2 separate regions of the Homo sapiens genome follow, and region 1 is linked to region 2. The links come from fine-mapping of genetic effects on gene expression. Tissue or cell type: whole blood. Region 2 holds a variant in brackets; the other region holds the start of a gene. All regions are shown on one strand. Distances are between the middles of the regions.

Region 1 (8,106 bases), 35 kb before region 2:
ACAGCCCTTGCTTGCTCTTGGCGCCTCCTCTGCCTTGGCTCCCACTTTGGCGGCACTTGAGGAGCCCTTCAGCCCGTGCTGCACTGTGGGAGCCCCTGCCTGGGCTGGCTGAGGCTGGAGCCGGCTCCCTCAGCTTGCGGGGAGGTGTGGAGGGAGAGGCGCGGGCAGGAACCGGGGCTGTACGCGGGGCTTGTGGGCCAGCGAGAGTTCCGGGTGGGCGTGGGCTCGGCAGGCCCCGCACTCAGACCAGCAGGCCTGCCCCGCTGGCCCCCGGCAGTGAGAGGCTTAGCACCTGGGCCAGCAGCTGCTGTGCTTGACTTCTCGCTGGGCCTTAGCTGCTGCCTCCCTGTGGGGCAGGGTTCGGGACCTGCAGCCTGCCATGCTTGAGCCTTCCCCCACCCAACCCCACCAGCCATGGGCTCCTGCACAGCCAGAGCCTCCCCGACGAGCACCGCCCCCTGCTCCACGTTGCCCCTTCCCATCGACCTTCCAAGTGAGAGGTGACAGCATGCTGGCAGCCCTCACAGCCCTCGCTCGCTCTGGGCACCTCCTCTGCCTGGGCTCCCACTTTGGCAGCACTTGAGGGGCCCTTCAGCCCACTGCTGCACTGTGGGAACCCCTTCCTGGGCTGGCTGAGGCCTGAGCCCGCTCCCTCAGCTTGTGGGGAGGTGTGGAGGGAGAGGCGTGGGCGGAACCGGGGCTGCGCATGGTGCTTGCGGGCCAGCCCGAGTTCCGGGTGGGTGTGGGCTCCGCGGGCCCTGCACTCAGAGCGGCCGGCTGGCCCTGCCGGCCCCAGGCAATGAGGGGCTTAGCACCCCGGCCAGCGGCTGCAGAGGGTGTGCTGGGTCCCCCAGCAGTGCCGGCCCACCAGTGCCGGCCCACCAGTGCTGTGCTGGATTTTTTGCCAGGCCTTAGCTGCCTCCCGGCGGGGCAGGGCTCAGGACCTGCAGCCCGCCATGCCTGAACCTCCCCCACCCTCCGTGGGCTCCTGTGTGGCCGGAGCCTCCCCGACAAGCACCGGCCCCTGCTCCACTGCGCCCAGTCCCATCAACCACCCCAAGGGCTGAGGAGTGCCGGCTCATGGCGCGGGACTGGCAGGCAGCTTCACCTGTGACCCAGTGCTGGATCCACTGGGTGAAGCCAGCTGGGCTCCTGACTGCTGGGGACTTGGAGAACCTTTATGTCTAGCTAAGGGATTGTAAATACACCAATCGGCACGGTGTATCTAGCTCAAGGTTTGTAAACACGCCAATCAGCACCCTGTGTCTAGCTCAGGGTTTGTGAATGCACCAATGGACACTCTGTATCTAGCTACTCTAGTGGGTACTTGGAGAACCTTTGTGTCCACACTCTGTATCTAGCTAATCTAGTGGGGACGTGGAGAACCTTTGTGTCTAGCTCAGGGATTGTAAACACACCAATCAGCACCCTGTTAAAACAGACCACTCAGCTCTCTGTAAAATGGACCAATCAGCAGGATGTGGGTGGGGCCAGATAAGGAAATAAAAGCAGGCTGCCCCAGCCAGCAGTGGCAACCTGCTGGGGTTCCCTTCCATGCTGTGGAAGCTTTGTTCTTTCGCTCTTTGCAATAAATCTTGCTACTGCTCACTCTTTGGGTCTACACTGCCTTTATGAGCTGTAACACTCACCACGAAGGTCTGCAGCTTCACTCCTGAAGCCAACAAGACCACGAACCCACCGGGAGGAACAAACAACTCCAGACGCCCCACCTTAAGGGCTGTAACACTCACCGCGAAGGTCCACAGCTTCACTCCTGAGCCAGTGAGATCACGAACCCACCAGAAGGAAGAAACTCCAAACACATCCGAACATCAGAAGGAACAAACTCCGGACACGCTGCCTTTAAGAACTGTAACACTCACCGCCAGGGTGTGCAGCTTCATTCTTGAAGTCAGTGAGACCAAGAACCCACCAATTCCAGACACACAAAGGCTGAGGAGTGTGGGCACACGGTGTGGGACTGGCAGCCAGCTCCACCTGTGGCCACGGTGCGGGATCGACTGGGTGAAGCCAGCTGGCCTCCTGAGTCTGGTGGGGACTTGGAGAACCTTTATGTCTAGCTAAGGGATTATAAATACACCAATCGGCACTCAGTATTTGGCTCAAGGTTTGGAAACACACCAATCAGCACCCTGTGTCTAGCTCAGGGTTTGTGAATGCACCAATGGACACTCTGTATCTAGCTACTCTGGTGGGGACTTGGAGAACCTTTATGTCTAGCTAAGGGATTGTAAATACACCAATGGGCACTCTGTATCTAGCTCAAGGTTTGTAAACACACCAATCAGCCCCCCGTGTCTAGCTCAGGGTTTGTGAATGCACCAATTGACACTCTGTATCTAGCTACTCTGGTAGGGACTTGGGTAACCTTTATGTCTAGCTAAGGGATTGTAAATACACCAATTGGCACTCTGTGTCTAGCTCAAGGTTTGTAAACCATTCAGCACCCTGGTCTAGCTCAGGGTTTGTGAATGCACCAATCGACACTCTGGATCTAGCTAATCTAGTGGGGACATGGAAAACTTTTGTGTCAACACTCTGTATCTAGCTAATCTAGTGGGGACATGGCGAACTTTTGTGTCTAGCTCAGGGATTGTAAACACACCAATCAGCACCCTGTCAAAACGGACCAATCAGCTCTCTGTAAAACAGACCAATCGGCTCTCTGTAAAATGGACCAATCAGTAGGATGTGGGTGGGGCCAGATAAAAGAATAAAAGCAGGCTGTCCGAGCCCGGAGTGGCAACCACCTGGGGTTCTTTTCACACTGTGGAAGGTTTGTTCTTTAGCTCTTTGCAATAAATCTTGCTACTGCTCACTCTTTGGGTCTACGCTGCTTTTATGAGCTGTAATGCTCACTGCAAAGGTCTGTAGCTTTACTCCTGAGCCAGCAAGACCACAAACCCACCAGAAGGAAGAAACTCTGAACACATCTGAACATCAGAAGGAACAAACTCTAGACACACCGCCTTTAAGAACTGTAACACTCACTGCGAGGGTCCGCGGCTTCATTCTGGTAGCTAAACATACACAGATCAATGGGGCAGCATAGGGGCCAAGGCACTGCAGGGGTTCTCATGACTCTGAGTCAGGTGCTGTCTTGACCGACTGGTTGTGTGATTCCAGAAGCCTTCTTTCACCTGAAAAGGCCTCACTGGCCTCACCTATACAGTAAGTTTGCACATCATCTCCAGGGTTTCTTTCATTTCTACCCACTGTTTTTGTTTAGTAATGATGCCTTGCAGTCCTAATGATCTTGGAATCAAGAATGGTGACTAGAGAACTTCAAAGTGGAAAGAGAGGCTGGGCATGGTGGCTCATGCCTATAATCCCAGCACTTCGGGAGGCCGAGGCAGGCAGATCACTTGAAGTCAGGAGTTCGAGACCAGCCTGGCCAACATGGTGAAACCCTGTCTCTGCTAAAAATACAAAAAAAAAAAAAAAAATTAGCCAGGCATTGTGGTGCATGCCTGTAATCCCAGCCACTCCAGAGGCTGAGGCAGGAGAATTGCTTGAACTCAGGAAGTGGAGGTTGCGGTGAGACTCCGTCTCAAAAAAAAAAAAAAAAAAAAAAAAGGAGAGAGTAGGATGGCTGAGCCATGACGCAGTAGCAATGCTTCTTTTTTTTTTTTTTTTTTTGAGACAGAGTCTCGCTGTGTCGCCCAGGCTGGAGTGCAGTGGCGCGATCTTGGCTCACTGCAAGCTCCACCTCCCGGGTTCACACCATTCTCCTGCCTCAGCCTCCCAAGTAGCTGGGACTACAGGGGCCCACCACCACGCCCGGCTAATTTTTTGTGTATTCAGTAGAGACGGGGTTTCACCGTGTTAGCCAGGAAGCAATGCTTCCTATTCTAGCGCCTTGCTAAACTATGTGTGCTGCAGACTGTGTTCGTGATTCCGAATCCTAAAAACAACCGTCCTAGGCTTGTCTCTCAGCCTAGACTCTAGACTGATTTGGCTCATTTGGTTGTCTTGGAGACGTTCTAATTCTGAAGGGGGCAGTGGTCCCTTCTAGAAGATAGCTGGTCTGCAAATGCACACCTCTGCTTAGTCTGAATCCTAAAGTTATAGCTTGAGCCAATTAAAGTGGCTTCTCATTTTTCTCTCACTCTGATCTCAAGGAGCCCTTTTTCTTCTAGTAATCTAGACCTTCCTCTTCCTATCACAGTCTCAAGGATTGTGCCCCCAAAGCAGATGCAAAGCCCTGTCTACCCCTTCTCCTTCCCCTGAGGTAGAGCTTTATCGAAGGTTTCTCTTGGTAAACGTTAGCTTTCTGAACTAAGGGCCGTCTTTTTTTTTTTTCCCGCTTAAGCCCATTGCATAACAATCTCTTGTTTTAATCTTTTGCCCAACACTGCTTTTCTTACTGTCAGAGGTTACTACAAGTGTTTGAACAGGTAACTTCTACCTTTGAACTTCTGTTGTGACAGATTCAAAGGTTCCAGGGGAGTGTGTTGGCCACTCTCAGGACAGTACACAGTAGCTTCGGGTGTGTCCCAGTCAGTCCTAGGAGCTGTGGAAAGAGTAGAAGTGCCTGAATGTGGTGCTGAATCAATACAGCCAGCTGTGAGGGGAGCACTTCCTGGACCCAGGAAGGGAGAGTCTTCTTCCAAGGTAAGCTGCAATGATACTACCTGCACTATATTGAATATATCTGTGAGATAGTAGGGAGGGGATTGGTGTGGGGAAAGAAAGTGGGATTTGTTATGCTCAACCTAAGGCTCTTTAATAACATGAAATTACATTTAGTTGAATAGTAATCTCAGCTGACTTGTGTGGGAGGCAAAGAAAAAAATCAGTTGGAAAAGGGGTGGAGATATATGAGCTATCCAAATGCTAGCAGGGGATGGAATTGGAAGGGAACACTGATTTTGGTAAGTGTACTAAAGCACACCAAGCCAGAATGTGGGTCTCCTTCATCTTCCATTAAGAAATTTCTGTCTCAGTGTAGTTAGAAGGATCGTGCGTCAGCTGCTGAGGGCAGAGAGTCCCATTTGGCAGACAGAGAGGAAGGGAATCAGCAGATATTCGATTAGGTGCTGGGGACTGTTCTGGGTAGATTATGTATGTTACTTCATTGGTGTATCTCATCCTATAAAGCAGGTGGTATCCTTCCCATTTCACAGAGGCATAGTGCGTCTCCAGGCTGTTAAACAGCATGGCCTAAGCTACATAGCTCCAAGGTGGTGTGGCTAGAATTTGAGACTTGATTGGTCAGTTTCCACAGCCTGCCCAATAATGCAGAATTGTTGTGGGTTGCCAAAGCTTTCAGTTACCCCCTGAAATCCTGAGGGTGTCACTCATGTGCACAGAGGATTGATAGGAATACAACTCTGATGGGCCTTTAGAATGACTCAACCTTCCTGAACTTGAGCATTTTTACTGGAGGAGGTCAATAAAAAAAAAAGAAATAAAACCTCATCTTCCCCTGGCCCTGAGCCCTTTGGTGAAGGAAGACAGCACCCGGTGAAGGGCTCAGAGGTATTAGTGTGGCTGAGATTCGACACCCACTCTGCCATCCTCTGCTCTCCTCTAGAGGAAGTTGCCTCTTGGGGAGCTGAGTTCCTGAAACTAAGCAAATGACAAGTGCTCCTCCAGCCGTGAGATGAGCCAGAGGATGGAATGCCACAGGCCCCACTTCGTCTCCCAGCCCTTCATCTTTCTTCCATGTCCAAAGGCGGCTCCCCAGAGGCCAAGGGCTCAGCTCTTGTGTTCTCTGAGACTGTGGCACAGCTCACCCTGGCTTCCTTAGTAGGAAGCTTTTAAGAACTGCTCTGTAGAAAGAACAAACCCTAATCTAGCTCCAGCAAAGAGCCAGGATCATGCTGAACTTCCTGTGAGCCTTCGTGGGGGATCGAGGCTGGAGAAAGTGCTGCTTCATTCTGAGGTATCTGTGAGGTGGGGAAGGGGCAGGAAAATTTGTCATTTCGGCTTCCTAATCTGAGAATGGTAGCTCCAGGGCCCCCCTGTAGCCACAGCCTTAGGCGGATCAAAAATGAGACTAATACAGGTCCTGGTAATACTGGGGGTGACCAAGGCGAAAGAATCGATTTTTAAGTTAAGTTTTGAGGTGTGACTGTATCAGAGGGAAAGAAACCATGCCAATTGAACGACTCACAGCCCTGTCGTTCCTGACTTGCTTATTTTCTTGGCTTTGCCAGAACTTCTTCAGAGACCAAGGCAGGCAGCTCTGGCGACTGGAGAGAGGCGGGGTAGAAGGTGTTTGTGTGGGTCTGAGGGCTGAGGTACCCTCTAGCCAGACTTTCCTGTCCTCCGAATCCAGCAGGGAACAGCGTCACCTCTGCCTCTGTGAGGCTTCTGATCTGAGGGGGCACCTCAAGTCATTTTAGTTTGTTTGTTTTCATCTTAGTTGAAAGATGATAGGCCACAGGAGGGCAGGGTCAACTGTGTTGAGGCAAGCTGGCTTTTGTGTCGGCCCTTAGGGGCTGAGGTGAAAGGCTTTGACACGGAGCCAGGGTAGCTTTGGCAGCTTCTCCCCTCCTGGTCAGAACACTTCCACTTTCAGTTGTGAAAAAAAAAATTAAAACCAGGAAGTGAAGTCCCCGAGCACGTTAGAAAGCCTGACATGGCCTGACTCGGGACAGCTCAGAGCAGGGCAGAACTGGGGACACTCTGGGCCGGCCTTCTGCCTGCATGGACGCTCTGAAGCCACCCTGTCTCTGGAGGAACCACGAGCGAGGGAAGAAGGACAGGGACTCGTGTGGCAGGAAGAACTCAGAGCCGGGAAGCCCCCATTCACTAGAAGCACTGAGAGATGCGGCCCCCTCGCAGGGTAAGGGGACCATCGAGGGGGTGTTATTCAGCAAGGGGGTCTTGTGAGGGTGTGACAGAGGCCAAGGGGGCATCCTGACCCCCGACTTTCTTTAAGCGACTTAGAATCAAGGGCCGGCTGAGTTCCACGGGCACATCATGCTGTCTCCCTCCTGGTCTCGGTCATGCCTTCAGACCCTGTGTCAGGAGGAGCAACGGGAAGGAAGGATGTGGGGCATGCATGGGGCTCACTTTCCTTCTCTCGACTCTCTTGGGGAAGGTGAACCAAAACAGAGACCTCTTTTTGTGGGTCTGAGCATCCAGCATAGCTCCCCTGAGGTGGGCTGGGGGTTTGCCCTCAATTTTATGTTGGGTAAGACTGATGAATGAGACCAATGGGGTGGGAGAGACAGATGAATGGAGCTGAGTGTATTTTAGGAAGTAAGGCCACAGGTTAAGTCTCAGGTGCTGCTTAATTCCTAAGTACTTCCTTCCCAATGCCCACTCCCTGAGGGTCCTAAGGTGAATCTCAAAGACCCTCAGGGAGTAAGCACTGGAAAGGGACTCTACCACTGGAGACCCTCAGGGAATAAGCACTGGAAAGGGACTCTACCACCGGAGACCCTCAGGGAATAAGCACTGGAAAGGGACTCTACCACCGGAGACCCTCAGGGAATAAGCACTGGAAAGGGACTCTACCACCGGGGCTTGGTACCTTCTGAGATATCAGCCTTTTTTTGGTGGTCTGAAAGGTAGAATTGAATCTATAGCTCCAATGTGTAGGTGATTAGTATTCTATATCAGAGGCAGAGTCTTAAAAAATAAAGTTAAGGCCGGGCGCAGTGACTCACACCTGTAATCCCAGAACTCTGGGAGTCTGAGGTGGGTGGATCACCTGAAGTCAGGAGTTAGAAACCAGCCTGGCCAACATGGCGAAACCCCATCTCTACTGAAAATACAAAAATTAGCTTGGCGTGGTGGCGTACGCCTGTAATCCCAGCAACTCAGGAGGCAGGACAATTGCTTGAACCTAGGAGGCGGAGGTTGCAGTGAGCCGAGATGGCACCACTGCACTCCAGTTTGGATGACAGAGCAAGACTCTGGCTCAAAAACAACACACAAACAAACAAATAAAAAAACATTGAAAACTGACTTAGTTTTCTTTTAAAAAAGGAGTAATTGGTTTTGTTTATTTCTCCCTTCATATTCTGATATGGAGTCACTCTGTGGTAGTCCCCTCCGATTGATCAGTATTCAAGGTTAAACACAGAACATGTCTTGAAAGAGGCATGGTGTAAAATTTTATAGCCATCT
Region 2 (8,106 bases):
ACATATAATAGAAGCTCAAATCCTTGTTGGACTTACCCTTTGTGTCTTGCCCCTTCTTAATCTCCTTTTAGCTTCCTTGGTCCAGAGAATTTGCAACTGGAGTTGATTTTCTTTTAATATTATGTTTTTAGACAATGGGCCCTGCTTGGGATATAGAAAACCAAACCAGCCCTACAGATGGCTATCTTACAAACAGGTAAGTTGAGTCCATGTTTTTAGACAGATTCTTTCTAACATAGTATTCTGAACTACAGGATACGATATTGGTCAGTTTTTGGTCTTGACCTCTTCTCTCTCTCTCTCACCCCATCTCTCTTTTTTGTAGGTGTCTGATAGAGCAGAGTACCTGGGTTCCTGTCTCTTGCATAAAGGTTATAAATCATCACCAGACCAGTTTGTCGGCATCTTTGCTCAGAATAGGCCAGAGGTAACTATGTTGAAGTTAACTAAAGGAAATGAGTCAGGGTTAAGTTTAAAAACTTCAAATGCTATTCCCCGTCCAGCATTCCAACACTTGTTAATGCCTTACCAAAGCTATTGTTAAAATTTTCTAATGCTTATTCTACTTGAAAGAGTTACCACTCAGAACCTATTTAATTTCTGGTTAAGTGTCTGGCACTCTCACCTAGGTGTTTGGACTTCTCTTTTTTCTCAGCCTATCATGTGTTTTTTGAAGTCAGTCTGATTGTTACATGAGGAAAATAAGGAAGCTAGGAGGGACCGCCAAATAAGATCTTGAAGATATTGTGGAAAGTATGTATTAGTATTAGAACTGAAACTTGCAATTTGTAATTGAACTAGTAAATTCAGCCATTCATTGCTACTGAGTCTGGCCATAGCTATCTTTCCACAGTGAGTTGGAAGCAGATTTTAGACAGTAAGATGACAGAATCAAGCTTATCTCCAAGTTTTGGTTAAGTCATTAGGCACATTATCCCCAGAGGAAGTCTTTTTATGCTTCAAACGCTCCCTAGAAATGCAGCATATGATACATATAACATACAAAATCTGTGTTAACTGTCTGTGTTATCAGCAAGGCTTCCAGTCGACAGAAGCCATTAGTAGTTAAGTTTTGGGGGAGTTAAGTTCTATGTGGATCTTGTTGAAAGTTCACAAACTGTAAGTCCCATTTCTAATGCTAATACAAATATAAAAATATTCACCAACATTTTTAGGTGAATCTGCATACTCCATTCTTGTCACAGTCAGCCTCAATAGAAAAAGGTTCCCTTGACTCTAGTTTAGGAACTTAACACCTAATCTGATACAGTTAATCCTTGAACAACATGGGGGTTAGGACCACTGCCTATTCAGTAAAAAAATCCACAGATAACCCCCCCAAAACTTAACTACTAATAGCCTTCCTTTATGATAATATAGGTAGTTGATTAACACATATTTTGTATGTTATATGTATTGTATACTGCTTTCTTACAATATAGTAAGCTAGAGAAACAAAAATGTCATTAAGAAAATGATAAGGAAGAGAAAATGTATATACTATTCATTAGGTGGAAGTGGATCATTATAAAGGTCTTCATCTGAGTCATCTTTACCTTGAGTGGGTTGAGGAGGAGGGAGAAGAGAGGTTGGTCTTGCTGTCTCAGACCTGGCAGAGGTGGAAGAGGTAGAGGAGATGGAAAGAGAGGCAGGAAATATAGGCACCCTCAATGTAACTTTTATTGAAAAAAAAAATCCACAAGCAGACCCTTACAGTTCAAACCCATGTGTTCAAGGAGCAACTGTATATTAGTCTGCTAGAACTGCCATAATCTAATACACAGACCATGTGGCTTAAACAACAGAAATTTATTTTCTCACAGTTCTGGAGTCTAGGAATCCAAGGTCAGAGTGTCAGCAGGTTTAGCTTCTCCCGAGGCCTCTCTCCTTGACTTGTAGACAGCCACTTTTTCATTTTGTCTTCACACGGCCTTTTCTCTGTGCACATGTATCCCTCATGACCGTTCTTCTTCATAGAAGGAAGGGATTAGGACCCCACACTTAAAACTTCATTTAACCTTAATTACTTATTTAAAAGCCCTATCTCATATACTGTCACATTGGGGATTAGGGTTTCAACATGAATTTGGGTTGGGCCGGAGGAGGGGTGACAGGGAGACAGGATTCAGTCCATAACATCTACATTGATATTTAAGGCCCATCACTAGCAGATTCCTACCTACCTTTCCAGTTTTATTTCCTGTAGTCTTCAAGCTTGCTAATGTGTATCCACACAATGATGTTATGCTGTCTGTATTAGTTCGTTATCACACTGTTACGAAGAAATACCTGAGACTGGGTAATTTATAAAGGAAAGAGGTTTAATTGACTCACAGTTCTGCAGTGCTGGGGAGGCCTCAAGAAACTTACAATCATGGCGGAAGGGAAAGCAAACATGTCCTTCTTCACATGGTGGCAGGAAAGAAAAGAATGAGAGCAAAGGGGGTGGAAAGCCCCTTATGAAATCAGATCACATGAGAACTCACTCACTGTCACGAGAACAATGTATTAGTCTGTTTTTATGCTGCTGATAAAGACATACCTAAGACCTGGAAGAAGAGGAGGTTTAATTGGACTTACAGTTCCACATGGCTGGTGAGGCCTCAGAATCATGGTAGGAGGCAAAAGGCACTTCTTACATCGTGGCAGCAAGAGAAAATGAGGAAGAAGCAAAAAGTGGAAACCCCTGGTAAACCCATCAGATCTCATGGGACTTATTTACTATCATGAGAATAGCACAGGAAAGACCAGCACCCATGATTGAATTACCTCCCCCTGGGTCCCTCCCACAACACATGGGAATTCTGGGAGATACAATTCAAGTTGAGATTTTATTTTATTTATTTATTTATTTATTTTTTGTGAGACGGAGTTTCACTCTGTTGCCAGGCTGGAGTACAGTGGTGCCATCTCAGCTCACTGCAACCTCCACCTCCCGGGTTCAAGCAATTCTTCTGCCTCAGCCTCCCGAGTAGCTGGGATTACAGGCACATGCCACCACGCCCAGCTAATTTTTGTATTTTTAGTAGAGACAGGATTTCACCATGTTGGCCAGGATGGTCTCAATCTCTTGACCTCGTGATCTTCCCATCTCAGCCTCCCAAAGTGCTGGGATTACAGGCATGAACCACTGCACCCGGCCTCAAGTTGAGATTTGAATGGGTACGCAGCTAAACCACGTCAAACAGTATGAGGGTAACCACCCCCATGATTCAATTACCTCCCACTGGGTTCCTCCCACGACACATGGGGATTATGGGAACTACAATTCAAGATGAGATCTGGATGGGGACACAGCCAAACCATATCACTATTCTTTGTTCATTCACTTCCTTCTTTTAATCTACCTCTACCTCCATAACCAAATCCTACTAGTCCTCTAAAGCCCTGCCCAGTTTTCATCAGTTTCCCACAAGCAGTCCCAAATAGCTTTCCTCACCCTTGAAAGTGATCTCTGACACCCTAAGGCTCCTAATGCCTTCCATACCTCTTACGGATGGAACTTATCACACTCTGCCTTTGTATTCTGGTCTACCTTTGTATTGCAGTTGTCCCTGTGCCTTTCTTATCTCCCTTATTTAATTGTACTTTATAGCAGTATTTACAACTGTCCCTATGGCCCCACAGTGATTTTTTTTTTTACATAAAAGTCAACAAATAAGTAATCCCAGCACTTTGGGAGGCCCAGGTAGGCAGATAGGTTGAGCCTAGGAGTTTTATGCCAGAATGGGAAACATGGTGAAATCCCGTCTCTACAAAAAATACAAAAATTAGCTTGACATAGTGATGTGTGCCTGTAGTTCCAGCTACTCAGGAGGCTGAGGTGGGAGGATTGCTTGATCCTGGAAGGTTGAGGCTGCAGTGAGCTATGATCACACCACTGCACTCCAGCCTGGGCAGCAGAGTGAGGCACTGTCT[C/CA]AAAAAAAAAAAAAAAAGCAAAACAAAACAAGACAAAAAACCAGACAGCATTTGTTGGCTGAATGACTGAACTGGTACTCTTCAGTGTGCCCTCCAGTCCTTACTTGAACTTCTCTCTGTACAGTGGATCATCTCCGAATTGGCTTGTTACACGTACTCTATGGTAGCTGTACCTCTGTATGACACCTTGGGACCAGAAGCCATCGTACATATTGTCAACAAGGGTAAAATTTTGCTGTTACATTACAACTTGATTCTTTCTCAATGCTGAGTATTTCTTCAATTTCTGCTTTTTTGTTTATTTGTTTGTTTGTTTAAGCAAACTTGAAATGCTGTGGTCGGAAAATGTTCAAGTCTTTCTAGTTTTGTAGTACTTAGGATATAATTTTCAGGAAAGCTACAAAAAGCCCATGAAGCAGAGATACACACAGAAAGAAGTTTCAATGACATGCGTCAGGGTGACATGGTATGATGATATAGAGACAAGACTACTCACTCTGAACACACTAGATAAAAGCCCAGAGAGTGAGCTTAATTGACTTAATCACAGTAAAGCTACAGATTTAATTTCCTACCTTTGTAAATCCAAGTCAATACAGTTAACCAGCATGTACCAATGTCCATGGTGAGTCTGCAGAAAATAATTGTCGTTGTTAGAGAAACAAGTCCAAATTTGATGGGCAAGTAACAGCCCTTTCACATATCCAACATGTTACCTTCTGTCATGGGACTAGTAGATTAAGTGAGTAAGTCCATTTGCACAGTAAACATCATTTGAAACTTTAAACATGCATCAAAGCAAATGCTAAAATTTAGAATTGTAAAATACTTGTCAGCTAAAAATCCTATTTGCCCCCTTCTTTTTCTTCTATTCCCTACTATCCTCCTCAAATAAAACAGTGATAGAACCACACCTCAGTAACCTGTTTAGGTTATCTGAATGACTTCTTAAGCAGAAGGAATTCTGTGGTTCCTCTAGAAACTGTAAAATCTGCTGGCACAGTTCAAGAACATGTGCTTCTGTTTCAGTTAAGTTCATTTATCATCAATGGAATGTTTCAGGTTGTACATTATAAATCTGATTTGCAGGTGTAATCTCCTTTGGACACCTGTTAGCTTTGAAAACTTTTAAAACCTCTTCCTTCTTGCAAGGCAATCAGGTACTTAGCAGAGAGAGGGAATGACCTCTGGTTCTATTTTGGCTTCCAGCTGATATCGCCATGGTGATCTGTGACACACCCCAAAAGGCATTGGTGCTGATAGGGAATGTAGAGAAAGGCTTCACCCCGAGCCTGAAGGTGATCATCCTTATGGACCCCTTTGATGATGACCTGAAGCAAAGAGGGGAGAAGAGTGGAATTGAGATCTTATCCCTATATGATGCTGAGGTATGGATCTGAAATTTAGCTTGCAGCTCCAATGCTTGTCCAACACCTTGGGCAACTTGCAAGATACCTTCCCAAGAGGACAGTGTTCTTGTTCTCCAGGGGTGGCACGTGAGGAGTAGATTAGACTCATGCTGTGAAGCTCTGAGAATAATTTCCACAAGACAACTTTGAAACTCATGCCAGGAGAGGACAAAGTTCTGTGGCCAGCTGTATGGACTTCTAAGTGGATAATATATAAATAGGGGTTTAGTAATAGTTAAAGGATGTGGCTCCTGGAGCCAGGCTGCTTGGGTTCGCATGCCAGCTCCACATCTGTTAGGCAACCTTGGGCAATCTCATCTCCCTTCTCTCGGTCCGTAAAATGGTGATAAAAATAATCACTACCTCACAGAGGTCTTGTAAAGAGTTAGCTTAATTCATATATGTAGATTTCTCAGGACAGTGATGGATATGTAATAAGCTCTGAAAATGTTAGCTATTCATTTCTTTCAAAAAAGATTTAGTTAGGGCCCTAGATGACTGAAACTTAAGAGTACAATGGGAAGTTTGAACATGCAATCTACCCTCTATAGGTAGATGATTTTCTAGAGAAATCTTATGCTCTTCCCTGGGGCTTCCATTGTTCCTGAATGTTGGCTTCTGGTCCTGATCCAGGTTGGAATTTTGCTTATATTCCCATAGAGATGTTCTCACGGGAAAGGGAGGGAGAGGGCCACATTTATCACAGTCTGTCCATCTCAACTAATGTCTTTCTTTCTTGGTTTTCCATTCACATAGAACCTAGGCAAAGAGCACTTCAGAAAACCTGTGGTAAGTTTTCTTCTGCCTGAATTTGAGCCTTGCCATAGTCAACTCTCAAAGTTCATGGTGGAATAAGCCCTTGTGCTTCCTCCTCCAGCCTCCTAGCCCAGAAGACCTGAGCGTCATCTGCTTCACCAGTGGGACCACAGGTCTGTGCCCATGAAACTGAACCTTAGACCCCTGGTCAGCCAAGAACATGGCTTCAATTCTTGGCCACTGGTAGGCTGGTAAATACTCCCTCTAAAGAGCCCTATACTTAGGGGCTCACAGCCTAAGGCTTCTAAGTGTGAATTCCCAAATGGAAAAACATAAACATAAGTAAATACACTTTATTTAATATATTGGGAGGTGTTTATATTCAATAGATTTCAGGGGTCTTAAAGATGATGTCAGAAAGTCCTTTCCCCCGCCCCCACCAACCCACCACTCTCTTGATTTGACACCGCTGGAATGGTTTCATTCAATCAAGATAACTCAGTGATAGTTCTCCATAAAGGGCTTCAACCCCACCCTACATCCACCCATCTGTTAGAATGCTTAATAGTTTTTAATGTGGTCCATCATGGTCTACAGTTATATTCTTTCTAGTATGCCCAGTTTATAAGGTTTATAACCATATCACTATATAATATTGGTAGATCTGGAATTCCAAACATATAAACAGCATGAGATGTGGGGCAGAGGGACAAGGAGGGTTAACTTGAATTTTTCTTTGCAGCTGTGCTTCTATCTGAAATCATGGCTGTGCTCTGCATAGTAGTAGAAGGCCAACGATGCATTCAGCAGTAGAATCTCCGGGGGCATTAATTATTCCTAAACAGAGGCATATACCATCCACAAAAAGACACAGTGACAGGAAATGCTCTTGGCCTTCTGGAATAAAACCAATTGAATCTAGTTTCTTTCAAGGCCAAAGGCTACCTATTAGCTACATAAAGTATCTTTCTCTCCACCTCTTATTTCCTACAGGTGACCCCAAAGGAGCCATGATAACCCATCAAAATATTGTTTCAAATGCTGCTGCCTTTCTCAAATGTGTGGAGGTCAGTGGTCAGTTGAAAAAGAGGCTCTCATTAAAATGTGAATCTGTCATAAGATTTTTATTTTTGAGGTTAGAGCAGGCAGACACACACACACACATACACACACACACACACACACGTTAAAGGCTGGAGTGTGGACAAACACCAGCGTGTTCTTTGTTTAGAGGACTGTACATTTTCAAGCGTTGGTCTTTTAGGATCACTGCAAATTTCTACACTATATGCAGTTCAAGGCATCTCAGATCTACACAGTGTACCGCCTATACAGCTGTCTGTGGTAGTCCTGGGAGGAGGTAGTTTTAAAATCTCCATTGGAATTGAAAGTTGGCATTAATCTCATGTTGCCTCCTCTTACTTCCCTGGCCTACATAGCATGCTTATGAGCCCACTCCTGATGATGTGGCCATATCCTACCTCCCTCTGGCTCATATGTTTGAGAGGATTGTACAGGTGAGTGTTCTGTGTTCCTAGCAGTATGTGGCAAGGGGGTCCTGACTTGCTATCACATGTTTATTCCAAAGGCAGCTACACAGTATTTACTGTTCTTTCTCCGGTGTGAGAGGTGCAGGCAAGGAGTTGGCTCATGGGAGCCCTAATCATGGCATGGCCCCTCATTTCCTGCAGAGTCTTCCTCTGCTAAGTCTGCATGTGTCCAGGGAGGATAGTACTTGCTCCTGCCTTCATGGGGGTGTGTGAGTCTAGTGACATCACAGCTAGGAGCTTACTATCTATCTGCCCTTAATTCTGAGCTGACACAAGACATTGTCTTCTTTTTAAATTTTATTTTGGTTAGAATTTTTGAAAAGATCTAGGATTAGAGAAAAGGAAGTTCCCTACAGAGGATCAGGGAAGGAGCATTTGATCTACATAAGGTGTGAGATGTCCCCCGCGCCGGTTTTTGCACACCTGAGTGTGTAAGGTGGTGCTGTCAGCATGGTGCATACCGGAGGAGGTCT

Evidence for each region. PIP is the estimated chance that this variant, and not a neighbour inherited with it, causes the effect.
Region 1: it holds the start of ACSL5, and the variant in region 2 is fine-mapped to the expression of ACSL5 in whole blood (INTERVAL, PIP 0.91).

Annotation. Positions count from the first base shown.
Region 1 is chr10:112,369,635-112,377,740 of GRCh38, forward strand. It overlaps ACSL5 (acyl-CoA synthetase long chain family member 5), which reads left to right and starts at 4,482. Exons shown (of 21, transcript NM_203379.2): 1 at 4,482-4,635. RefSeq lists enhancers at 6,183-6,332, 6,214-6,714, 6,473-6,692, 6,715-7,215.
Region 2 is chr10:112,404,380-112,412,485 of GRCh38, forward strand. It overlaps ACSL5 (acyl-CoA synthetase long chain family member 5), which reads left to right. Exons shown (of 21, transcript NM_203379.2): 4 at 132-196; 5 at 326-427; 6 at 4,043-4,142; 7 at 5,128-5,306; 8 at 6,084-6,116; 9 at 6,205-6,256; 10 at 7,077-7,150; 11 at 7,523-7,600. Among named protein-coding and RNA genes, the nearest start is that of ACSL5, 34 kb to the left of the region's middle. The variant C/CA (reference allele first, on the strand shown) is at 3,919.